Linked DNA regions of Homo sapiens. The protein of the gene in region 3 purifies or fractionates together with the protein of the main gene of each other region. This does not show direct contact. Each region holds a gene or a part of one and is shown on either strand. Other genes may lie near its edges.

Region 1 (3,649 bases), on a different chromosome or scaffold from region 3:
TCCCGAGTAGCTGGGATTACAGGCGCCTGCCATCACGCCTGCCTAATTTTTGTATTTTTAGTAGAGACGGGGTTTCACCATGTTGGCCAGGCTAGTCTCGAACTCCTGACCTCAGGTGATCTCTGCTGGGCTCCCAAAGTGCTGGGATTACAAGTGTGAGCCACGGTGCCTGGGCCTTGTTCCTCTTTTTTCCTGGTAATTTTCTTTGTTGAGACATCTGTCTTATTTGATATTACTGTTGTTACGGTAGCTTCTTTTGATTGGTTTTTGCATGGCGTATCTTTTCCTATCCATTGCTTTGAACTTTTAACCTACCTGTATCTTTATATTTGAAATTAGTTTCCTGGTTCATTATTTTTATTCACTCTGCTAATCTCTGTCTTGTAGTAGTGTTTTAGGCCATTTACATTTAATCTAATTGTTAAATATTAGAACTTAAGTGTGCCATTTTATTGTTTTTTGATTGTTTCCTGTGTTTTTTCTTCTGTTTCCCTTTTCCTGCCTGCTGTGACTTACTCGAATATTTTTAGTATCTCATTTTGATTTATCTGTTATGTTTTGGTGTATATCTCCTTGTATGGTTTTCATAGTGGTGGCTATACAAATTACAATGTATTTATGTAATTCAACACAGTTTACTTGTACAGGTATTTTACTACTTCTAAGTGAAATATAGAAACTTTATCACCATTTAGGTCTCTATCCTCTCCCCTTTACAATTTAGTTGTCTTAAGTATTTCCTCTGCATACCTTGAGAACCGTATTAATATTATGATTTTTTTTAAATACCTAGCCTTTTCAGTAACTCAGGAGGAAACATATTTATCTGCATGTTTATCTGTTCTGTTATTTTTTCTTCATTCCACGATGCTCTAGGTTTCTTTCGTTTTTCCTTTATATTTGAAAAAATTTTTTCAGCAGTTGTCTTAGGGCAGGTCTGCTTGTGACAGATTCTCTTAGTTTTTCTCTACGGTTTTACAGTTTTCATCTGTCATCTCCATTTTGCTATTAAACTGCTCTTGTGATTTTTTGTTATTGTATTTTTCTTTGAAATTTCTATTTGTTTCTTCTTTATATCTCCTGTTTCTTTGCTAAGACTAGTTTTTCCTTTGTCTCAGGTGTTTGTAATTGCTCATTGAAGTATTTTTTATGACAGTCACTTTAAAATCCTTGTTAGACCTAAGTTCTGTGTTCTCTCTTGGTGGTATCTGTTGATTGACTGTGTTTTCTCATTCAAATTGCCATTTTTCTGGTTCTTGGTCATTTTTTATCATATTGTGGACATGCTGGGTATGATGTCATGAGACTCTGCTTCCTGTTTAAATCCCCTTACTTGAGAAGACTCCTCACTCGAGCCTGCTGGGTGCCACCTTGTTGCCGGGACAGTCATGGAGCTCCTGCCTCACCCACGGCCTCTGGCAGACCCTACTGGCTGGGAGAGTGAAGGGCACCACCTCGTTCTAGCCAGGCCGGGACAGCAGTCAGGATCCATTCTCACACCCCGGTGCTGGCTGCTGCGCAAGGCCAGGTGGACGAGGGGTGTGTGTGTGTGTGTGTGTATGTGTGTGTGTGTGTGCGCGCGAGTGGGGGTTTGCTTGCAGGAGGGCTGATGATGTGAAGAGAGTCTGTCCTGCAAGGCCCCTCCTGGTGCCAAGTGGACGAGGGGTGTGTGCGTGTGTGTATGTGTTGTTGTGTGTGTGGGTGGGGGTTTGCTTGCAGGAGGGCTGATGATGTGAACAGTGTGTGTGGTTGCAGGAGGGCTGATGATGTACAGAGAGTCTGTCCTGCCAGGCCCCTCCTGGTCCTTTGGCCATCGAGAGCAGGCTTACGGTTTTTGGTCTTTTTGTGTTTCTGGGCTGCCGACTTCTGTGGCACCCAGAGTGGGATGTGTAGTAAATAAGCATAAACAAAACCCCAGAGTCAAGCCAGGGACTCAGCGCTGGGTTCTCTCTCGAGTGCCGAGGCCCCTGGCTGGTTGGCTTCTGTTCCTTTCAGTCCCCCAATGCTTGTTCCGTATATTTTCCTCCAGGGCAGTGGGTCTAATATGCGGGAGGAGCAGGTTGAAATGTGTCCTCTCCATGTTGCCTGGAACTGGAAGAGCTCAAACCAAATTTTAAACTTAATCAGAACATATTCTGGTTGGGTGTGGTGGCTCATGCCTGTAGTCTTGGGAGGCCGAGGTGGATGGATCACCTGAGGTCAGGAGTTCGAGACCAGCCTGGCCAACATGGTCAGGAAACCACAAGACTGTCACGGAAACCCTTTTCTTTCAGTAACATGAGCCAAAGGTCACTGCACCTTGTCCCCTCCTGACCCTGTCCCGGTGGCAGGGTGTGGGGGACAATGAACTGCTTGTCTGTGTGCCTCCAAGTGGGGCAAAACCAGGCAGCATCCTGCTGTTTAGCTGCACCTGAGACGATGCCTGAGGGCTACCTGAGGAAACAGGGAAACGTGGGGTTTTAGCCGGATGTGGTGGCGTGTCCCTGTAATCCCAGCTACTCAGGAGACTGAGGCGGGAGAATCACTTGAACCTAGGAGGTGGAGGTTGCAGTGAGCCGAGATCGCACCACGGTACTCCAGCATGGGCAACAGAGTAAGACTCCATCTGAAAACAAAAACAAAAAAACCAAAACATATTCTAAAACATAAATGTTCCCAGGAAAGTATTGATGTATTCGGATCTAAACTGCCTTTTTGATTACGGAAACTTTCATCTTGTAATTAATGTTGATGTAGTGACTGCTTATGGGGTGCGTGGAGCTTGCACAGCCCGACCACAGTTGTAACAGGAGGACAGCAGACAGGTTACCCGACGAGTGGGTTTCAGATGGTGATGGCTGCAAGGGGTGACAGAATTGAGCAGCCAGAAGTGGAGGCGGGAGATGAAGTAGAGGGGTGTTCCTGGGGAGAGACGGTTTTGGAGGGAGAGGCAGTAAAGGTGGGAAGAAGCGTGTGGGCTTGGAGGTATTGTAGAGATAAACATAAGCCGAAACTTCAGGTACGTTCCTTGCTCGTCAGTGCTGATATTCCAACTCCAAAGGAGTTGCACTGAGTTCTAGGTGCCTCTTTCAGATTACGAGGATACATATCTCTCTGAGAAAAGCTGAAAATACAGAAATGTGTAAGAGGGAAAATAAAGGGATTTATTCCACAATAGGACACATGTGTTAAAGTTTGTCTTTCAATCTTTTTACATATACTGTTAGAGGAAGAAATGTTTTGAATGACCCTTGTCAGGCACAGTGAGGAAGGCTTTATTCAGAACCATTGAGGTGGGCCTGGGGCCACTGCGCTGGGATTTTGCAGTGGGGGAGAGAGATGGAGCTCAACTCCAAGTACAGCAGGGGCCGGGGGGAGTTTATAGCCTAGGGTCAGGGTGGGGGCAGTGGATGGAAAATGACTGAGAGGACACATGAGGAGTAAGGGGATTTGGGCTAAACCAACTGAACAGGATTATTGCGAAAGAGAGGCCAGGGTGAGCAGACACCACCTATGGGATCTGGGGATGAGGAACCTGAGCAGATACTGAGGGTGGGGGTTTTGGCCGCACTAAACTGGACTTTACAAGGAAGGGCACAGATGGCCGAGGAGAAGATTCAGGAGCCTGAGTAAAGTTGAATTAAACCAAGAATCTGTGTCAGTTTCTACT
Region 2 (3,649 bases), on a different chromosome or scaffold from region 3:
CTACAAACGATCAGTACAGCTCTTTTTTTTTTTTTTTTTTTTTTTTGAGAAGGAGTCTCACTTTGTTGCCCAGGCTGGAGTGCAGCGGTGCAATTTCAGCTCACTGCAACCTCCACCTCCCAGGTTTACGCAATTCTTGTGCCTCAGCCTCCTGAGTAGGTGGGATTACAGGTGCCCGCCACCACGCCCTGCTTATTTTTGTATTTTTAGAAGAGATAGGGTTTTGCCATGTTAGCCAGGCTGGTCTCGAACTCCTGACCTCAGGTGATCTGCCTGCCTCGGCCCCCCAAAGTGCTGGGATTATAGGAGTAAGCCACCGCGCCCGGCCCAATAAAGCTCTTTTTAAGTGATCATGTCTGAACTCTACAGTAATGAGGCTTTACCACATTCCCATGTGACCCGACGTTGATGTGACTACACAAGAAGAACCTGTTAACTAAAGCCAAGAAGGCGGAGTCGACAGCTCCGTGACTCGTTAGGAAGGATGGGAGATGCAGTGTAGAAAGACAACCCCCTCTCCAGAGCTCGCAACACAAGCTCCATCTGAAGACGATTTAGATTTCCCTTCTCTGTAGAATTTGTGCAATTCCACAGGACATGCCAACTTCTGGGCAGAGGAGCCTCAAAATTTTCACTCACAGTGGCTTCCCTCTGGAAGGATTCTTTATAGAAAGAACTTGGAACACATTTCAGACAGACTGTGTGACCTGTTGACTGGCTAATCGGGGCCCAAGAAGAACAATTCACCACCAAAGGGCTAGATGTGGCCCAGCGAGTTCTGCAGCACAGCCCTCGTTCTAATTTCAGGAATGAAAGAGAAATACTAGAAGGATGCCGCTGGGCTGCCACCTCTTAAATACTTCCAGACCCTGGCATCGGCAGGGCCAGTTCTTTCACTGACATGATTCTATTTGACAGATAGTTAATCTAAAAATCTAAAAGCATATCTACGTTTCCCCCATGTGACACAATAAAGCTATTTTTATTTGGAAGAGGAAAAAGGTAGCAAGGTAAACATTTGTTTTTCTTGGATGAGACTCTGTGAAAATAAACATAGAAGAACATAATGAAATGAAGTGAAATGAAAAGGTCAGCACAGCCGACTTGGATACTGTGTTCTGGGCCATGCCTAAACTTGGTTCCCAAAGGCACCCACTGCCCTGAAGGCTGGAGCCAAGGCTTCCCCACCCTACTAGTCCCCGACGCCCACCTGGGATTTTCAGGTTCAGGTCACAAATGCTCCCGACAGTGGCCACGGACGGGGCCCGACTGGTGCGGGTGATGCTCTCTTTGACTCTTCCCTCCCCACTGATCTTCACGGTAAATGGGCTCCCTGCAAGACCCAAGAAGGCTCCTGTGAGCAGGCCAGAGGCCAAGGCACAGCATTTACAGAAAACCCAAGCATCCCACCTGGAGGGGAATGGAATGCACATACCAGGCACGTGCTCGTCAGCGAATTTGGTGGAGACGATATAAACCCCAGGCACGGTAGGGAAGTAGGAGACTTTGCAGGTGCCATCTTCCAGGTCCTCCGTCTGGATGTCCACTTTGCTGGGGCCTTCCACCGCCAAGGATATGCCACCATAACCTGCAACACAGCAGCCCCAGGCTGTTCTGACAGCAGCTCCTCAGGAAGAGGGAGCCTGATGAATGGAGAAAGGACATCCGACCCTTACGCCTCAATCTATTTCTACATAGCAGAAAGAAAGCAATGGCGGCCTCGTTTGCAAAGCCCAGAGGGGGATGAGTAGGTTAAGCGTCCTGAGAAGCCCCATAGTGAAATAACCTGCTGAACCTGGTTTTGACCACAGAAGCCTTTCCTTAAGGATATTTACTAATATCCCATAGATGATGTGTCCCGTACAAACTGCTGGGGAGGACCTTCTGCCCTCACGCCTCCAAGTACTGCACGTACCACCTTGGGGGTTTATCCACAGCCAGATCTGAGATTTTGAATTTTTAAATAGCCCCTGGCTACCTCAGCTAGGTCAGCATATCCGAAGGTTTAACAGGGAGTATCTCCCAACCAGGACCAGAAATTCTCCAGCCCTCTCCCCGGGTTAGAATTTGTCTAGAATTCACCAGCGTGGCCATCCTTCAAGAAAGCAGATGACTGGAGGCACTGGGGTGTGGCAAGCTTGGAAGAGACACAATCTAACTCAAACCATCTCAAAGAGAAAACAGAAAGAGATGCTTCATTTCCACAAAAGCTCTGCTCAGATGACCATGGTCTTGGCCAATCAACCCAACATTCTTTGCTTGGAGAGACGCTGGGAAGCTGAGAACAAGGGTGGGAGAGCAGATAAGAAAACAGGGGTTTGCGAGGTGTTGTGGCTCTGGGTTCAGATCCTAGTGCAGAGGGGGCTCTAAACCTTGCAAGCCTCAGTTTCATCATCTAAAAAACAAAGACAATCCCATTTTTGCCAATGGTCATGAGGCATAAAAGACAATGCAGGCAGAAGGACCTATAGCTTGAAGGATGCTCAGAAAGGAAAAGGAGTTGGTAGGATGAAAAGATGACGCTGCCTCAGCAAAATAAGTCGGTTCCCACAAGCTCTGGGCCTCTCCCCTGGGACCACACAGACCTGCATCCCTTGTGTCCACGATGAAGTCAGACATCTCGAAAGTCCGGCCTTCTGACAGGCCGCGGCCATAGACTTTGGCTCGGCGGGCGTCACCAATCTCCGACTGGACCACCATGATAGACACGGGGCTGTTGGCCACATGGTTGCCATTTTTCTTGATGCTGACCAGATGTTCGCCCACTTCCCGGGGGATGAAGGAGATGCCTGGACCAGAACACAGATTGGGGCTTGTAAGGGGATGGCGGAGAGGAAGCAGGAGAGAGACACACTCTCAGAAATAGAAATATGTCCTCTTTCCTGACACCCAACAATCCAGAGTGTCGATATCACAATGCACAAATACGCTTGGGCATTTATCGTGCGTGTGACCCAGCAGGTTTATCACATCACACTCCATTGTGCTACCCATTCCCAAGAAAGGACTGCAAGAGTCCCCATCTCCCACCCAAGATGTCCTGGCTCCAGCCAGGAAGGGTAGCCTAGCTCACCAATGTGGTTGTTGGGCAGCCTCTTCAGGAGACAGGGCTCGTCTCGGCCAGATGGGGCCTTAATGCTGGCCGTCAGGCTGCTGAGGTCAGTCTCACTGATGTCGAGCAGGAAGTCAGCGGCTGAGCCCAACTTCACCTGGGAGCACCGCCTGCTGTCATCTGGGAAACATCCCCCAAAAAGGACTCCCGTTACATGTGGTTACCCTGGCTTCACAGAGCTGCCATGCCATATGCTGTTCACGGATGAACACGCAAGAACTAATTACACAAAGTTAAGTGAAAAAAAAATGAGCCTTGAACACTGAGTAGACCCAACCAATGAAGAATGATGGGATTCATGCCTGCTTGCAGCAAAGACAAGAAGCTGGCAGGACCTAGAGACTTGAGTCCTCATGGACCACATTTTAAAGGAATCTTTGGGCCAGGTGCCTAATCCCAACACTTTGAGAGGCTGAGGCAGACGAATCACTTGAGGTCAGGAGTTCAAGACCAGCCTGTCCAACATGGTGAAACTTCATCTCTATTAAAAATACAAAAATAAGCTGGGTGTGGTGGTGGGTGCTGTAATCCCAGCTA
Region 3 (3,649 bases):
AAGAGTGAAAGTCCGTCTCAAAAATAAATAAATAAATAAATATATATGTATCTATCTATCTCAAAGGCTTAACTCGGCCCATCCACCAGGCCTGCAGCCATGTGGCTCACCAATGCCCCTATACAGGACATGCAGGGCATGGCCACATTTCAAGAGCAGCCTTTTATTCATGGGCCATGAGCCTATTGCTGCAAAAAATGAAAAACTGCTCCTATTCTGATGAGAGCTGAAATTCAGTCTTAGAGTGGATGTGCTACTAAATGGCTGCATGTGAATTCGATTATTTTTTTGATACGGAGTCTGGCTGTGTCGCCCAGGCTGGAGTGCAGTGGAATGATTCCAGCTCACTGCAACCTCCGCTTCCAGGTTCAAGCGATTCTCCTGCTTGAGCCTCCCCAATAGCTGGGATTATAAATGCGCACCACCATGCCCAGTTAATTTTTGTATTTTTAGTAGAGACGGGATTTCGCCATGTTGGCCAGGCTGGTCTCGAACTCCTGACCTCAGATGACCCGCCTATCTTGGCCTCCCAAAGTGCTGGGATTACAGGTGTGAGCCACCGCACCCAGCCAAGTTTTTCTTAAAGGAAGACAACGCCTGATTCCCACAGCCATCTTTCTCGGGCATGGAAGCATTATAACATGGGGTCACAGATCTGAGTGTCACAGAATCTGCACTCTACCAGTAGCTAGCAATATGACAATGAGCAAGTCACTTAACCTCTGAGAGCCTCAGTTTTCTCTTCTGTAAAATGAAGATAACAATAATGTGTACTTCACGGGGCTGGCATATAATGAGGGTTTTAATGTTAACTGCAATCATAAAAGTAATTATTGATAGCAAGAATAACTTTCAAAGTCAAGTTTGCATGTTTGATTCTAGCCAGTTAACATTCGGACAAAGAAAAAAACAGCTTTCCATTGCCAAAGCCTTTGCCCCTAGACCCAGGGAGCCATCTTGCTAGTCCCCAAGAGGGATCAGGGCAGAAAGACAGCTCAGGGCAAGCCCATCCCTAGTGCTGGGAAAACAGATCACAAAGCTTACGACGCTGGTGCTGGATCCGTAACACCATCTTTATGGAGGGACAGGGAATGAGGGAGAGGATGAGGATGCCACAAATCTCTCCCGGAATCCCACATCTACTTTGCACAAGAGATCAGTAAGAGTGAGCCCCCAGCGCCCCCGCCCCTGCCTCCTATACCTTACTGTCCAGCTTCTTCATAGTCACTAGGTCCAGAGACTTCAGGGAATGACCCGTGGGGGCAATGAAATACAAGCAGACATGGATTCGGGAGTCATGGTAGGTGTGTAGCACTCTTCGGATCTTTAGCTCTTCCTGCAGGTAGGCCTCGAATTGTGCATCGATGAATTCCACGATAGGCTTGTAGCTAAAAGGGAGAGCAGGGACAGAGGCGGATCCCGTCAAAAACTTGGATTTTGACACCGTCCTTTTTGGAAGTTTCAAATGCCCTCTGTAATCTTGACTCTCTCCCATCCAACTGCATTTCTCCATCTCCCTTCAGTGGGCCTCCAATCTTGTCAGCCTGGCCACCTTCTTGGTCCCTACATGAGCCAAACTTATGCCCATCTGTGCACCTTCACTAGAATGCCCCTTTCTCTCTCCTCATCCCAATTCTGCCCTCCCAGACCTCAGGGCTCAGCTTAATGTCCTCCTCCTTCCTACGGCCTTCCCCACTTATGCCAGAAATCCCTTCTGCGAGTCAGGGGCATAACAAGAAATGGCATTCAATTACTTATTGTTGCTTCACAAGGATTCTCTCAAATAGATTGTGCCTTCCTAAAGAGCAGGGCCTGTGAAGGGCACTTGTCTGTCCCTCGGGGGGCCCCAACACAGCATGGAGCCCACTGGCTGTATCTGTAGAGGGACTGATTTTCCTCCAAGCTGGGCTCATGTCTTTGCTCCCTTTATCTCGCCCTACAGTGCCTAGATGAGAGCTGGGTACACAGTGGGTAACAAGACCTCTCTTTGGCCCACTGCTGGGCAATCTTGTGAGAACATTCAGGGCTTTTGCTCATTCTCGCTAGGTTTAGCGGAGCTCCACACTTGGCTCCCCCAAGGTCAAGATATTTTTCTGATTCTCATTTCTGCCAAGGTGGTGACTTTAAGTATTCAGGCCAGGCACAGTGGATCATGGCTCGTAATCCCAGCACTTTGGGAGGCTGAGACGGGCGGATCTTCTGAGCTCAGGATTCGAGACCAGCCTGGGCAACACGGCAAAACTTCGTCTCTACTAAAAATACAAAAATTAGCCAGCTGTGGTAGCTCATGCCTGTAATCCCAGCTACTCAGGAGGCTGAGGCAGGAGAATCGCTTGAACCCGGAAGGCAGAGGTTGCAGTGAGTGGAGATCATGCCACTGCACTCCAGCCTGGGCAACAGAGTGAGACCCCATCTCCAAAAACAAACAAACAAACAAACAAAGTATTCAGGCAAAATCTGGTAAAGCTACTCCCCTCCGCACACCCTGCACACATGGACACAGGCCCGCCAGCTCACTGAGTCTCCACACGCGGCTCCTCTAGGTGGCCCCCAAGTCTTGCCAAGGCTTCTTAAACAACAGTCAGCCCTCTATGTCTCTCTTTCCTGGGCCTCCCTGGGAAACTTCCCTCTCCCTCTGTCCCAGTCCCCTCCCACGTCATCCCCGTCACCCCTACGGCCTCTTTCTGCTCTAACTAGGTCAGCTTAGCTCAGCTCTGCCTCTTGTTCTCATCTCCCCTGTCTGTCTGCTGCCTCTCTGGCTGAGGGGGTGCCTCCCTTCAGGCTAGAAGAGGCTTGTCATGTGGGCCCAGGGCAGGGAGTTTTCAGATACCGCTGCCAGAAGGGAACATGATGATCAAAGGAGGAGCTGAGCCCAGCCAATGCCTCCCACCTGCAGCAGCTCCCAGGCTGAGCCTTTCTGAAAGATCCCCCTAGTAGAGAAGGGGAAAATAGCCTTTTAAGAAAGAATCACAGGATCCTAGATTCTGAGAGCTGCAGCCAGAGCTGAGATCCAGGTGCAGGCTATCTCTGGAGCCCCAGAGAAAAATCTTTTTTTTTAAGATGGAGTTTCGCTCTGTTGCCCGGGCAGGAGTGCAGTGGTGCGATCTCCACTCACTGCAACCTCTGCCTCCCAAGCCCCAGAGAAAACTCTAAAAACATAGTCCTTTCTTTATTCCTTTGATCCCTCCGAGCCACTGTTCCGAAGGGTAATCGCATCAAAGAATCTCTTGGTTGCAAAGATCCTTAGAAGGTTCCTGACGAATTTGGAGTGAGGGTGGGGAATGTATCCCCTAGGCTTATTTAATTAATTTTTGGATGTTTTGCTGATTTGAAATAGTTGATGATGGCACTGCTTCATTTTTTTTCTCAATTACGTAATTTTTTTTTACTTCATTTTTTGCTTTGCAGAAGGAATCAGAGGAAAGAAAATAAAGCTAAAAAGTGCATTTTTTAGCTCCCCCACACACCCCGAAATCTGTAGTGATACCCTGTGCCTGTCTTACTGCAATTGCCTCTGGCTCTCGGAAGCTCTCAAGATGTACATGGATCAGACCAGCCAAACCAGCCAATCAGCCACCAGGATTTGGTGTAGACGAATCCTAAATGGGTGGCTTATCTTCGTCTTATTCATCTCTGTATCCTCCACGTC

The links.
Region 1: the proteins of SEPTIN6 (region 3) and CEP72 purify together in Homo sapiens (affinity purification with mass spectrometry, with the first as the bait; one large-scale study listed by BioGRID). This does not show direct contact.
Region 2: the proteins of SEPTIN6 (region 3) and FLNB fractionate together in Homo sapiens (co-fractionation; one large-scale study listed by BioGRID). This does not show direct contact.

Annotation. Positions count from the first base shown.
Region 1 is NC_000005.10:615,257-618,905, forward strand, and holds part of CEP72 (centrosomal protein of 72 kDa), read left to right. Parts: intron 1-2,572; exon of another isoform or gene 2,573-2,593; intron 2,594-3,649. UniProt on the Homo sapiens protein: Involved in the recruitment of key centrosomal proteins to the centrosome.
Region 2 is NC_000003.12:58,147,789-58,151,437, reverse strand, and holds part of FLNB (filamin-B), read right to left. Parts: intron 3,233-3,649; coding exon 3,074-3,232; intron 2,790-3,073; coding exon 2,586-2,789; intron 1,589-2,585; coding exon 1,436-1,588; intron 1,334-1,435; coding exon 1,211-1,333; intron 1-1,210. UniProt on the Homo sapiens protein: Connects cell membrane constituents to the actin cytoskeleton. May promote orthogonal branching of actin filaments and links actin filaments to membrane glycoproteins. Anchors various transmembrane proteins to the actin cytoskeleton.
Region 3 is NC_000023.11:119,651,653-119,655,301, forward strand, and holds part of SEPTIN6 (septin-6), read right to left. Parts: intron 1,389-3,649; coding exon 1,202-1,388; intron 1-1,201. UniProt on the Homo sapiens protein: Filament-forming cytoskeletal GTPase. Required for normal organization of the actin cytoskeleton. Involved in cytokinesis. May play a role in HCV RNA replication.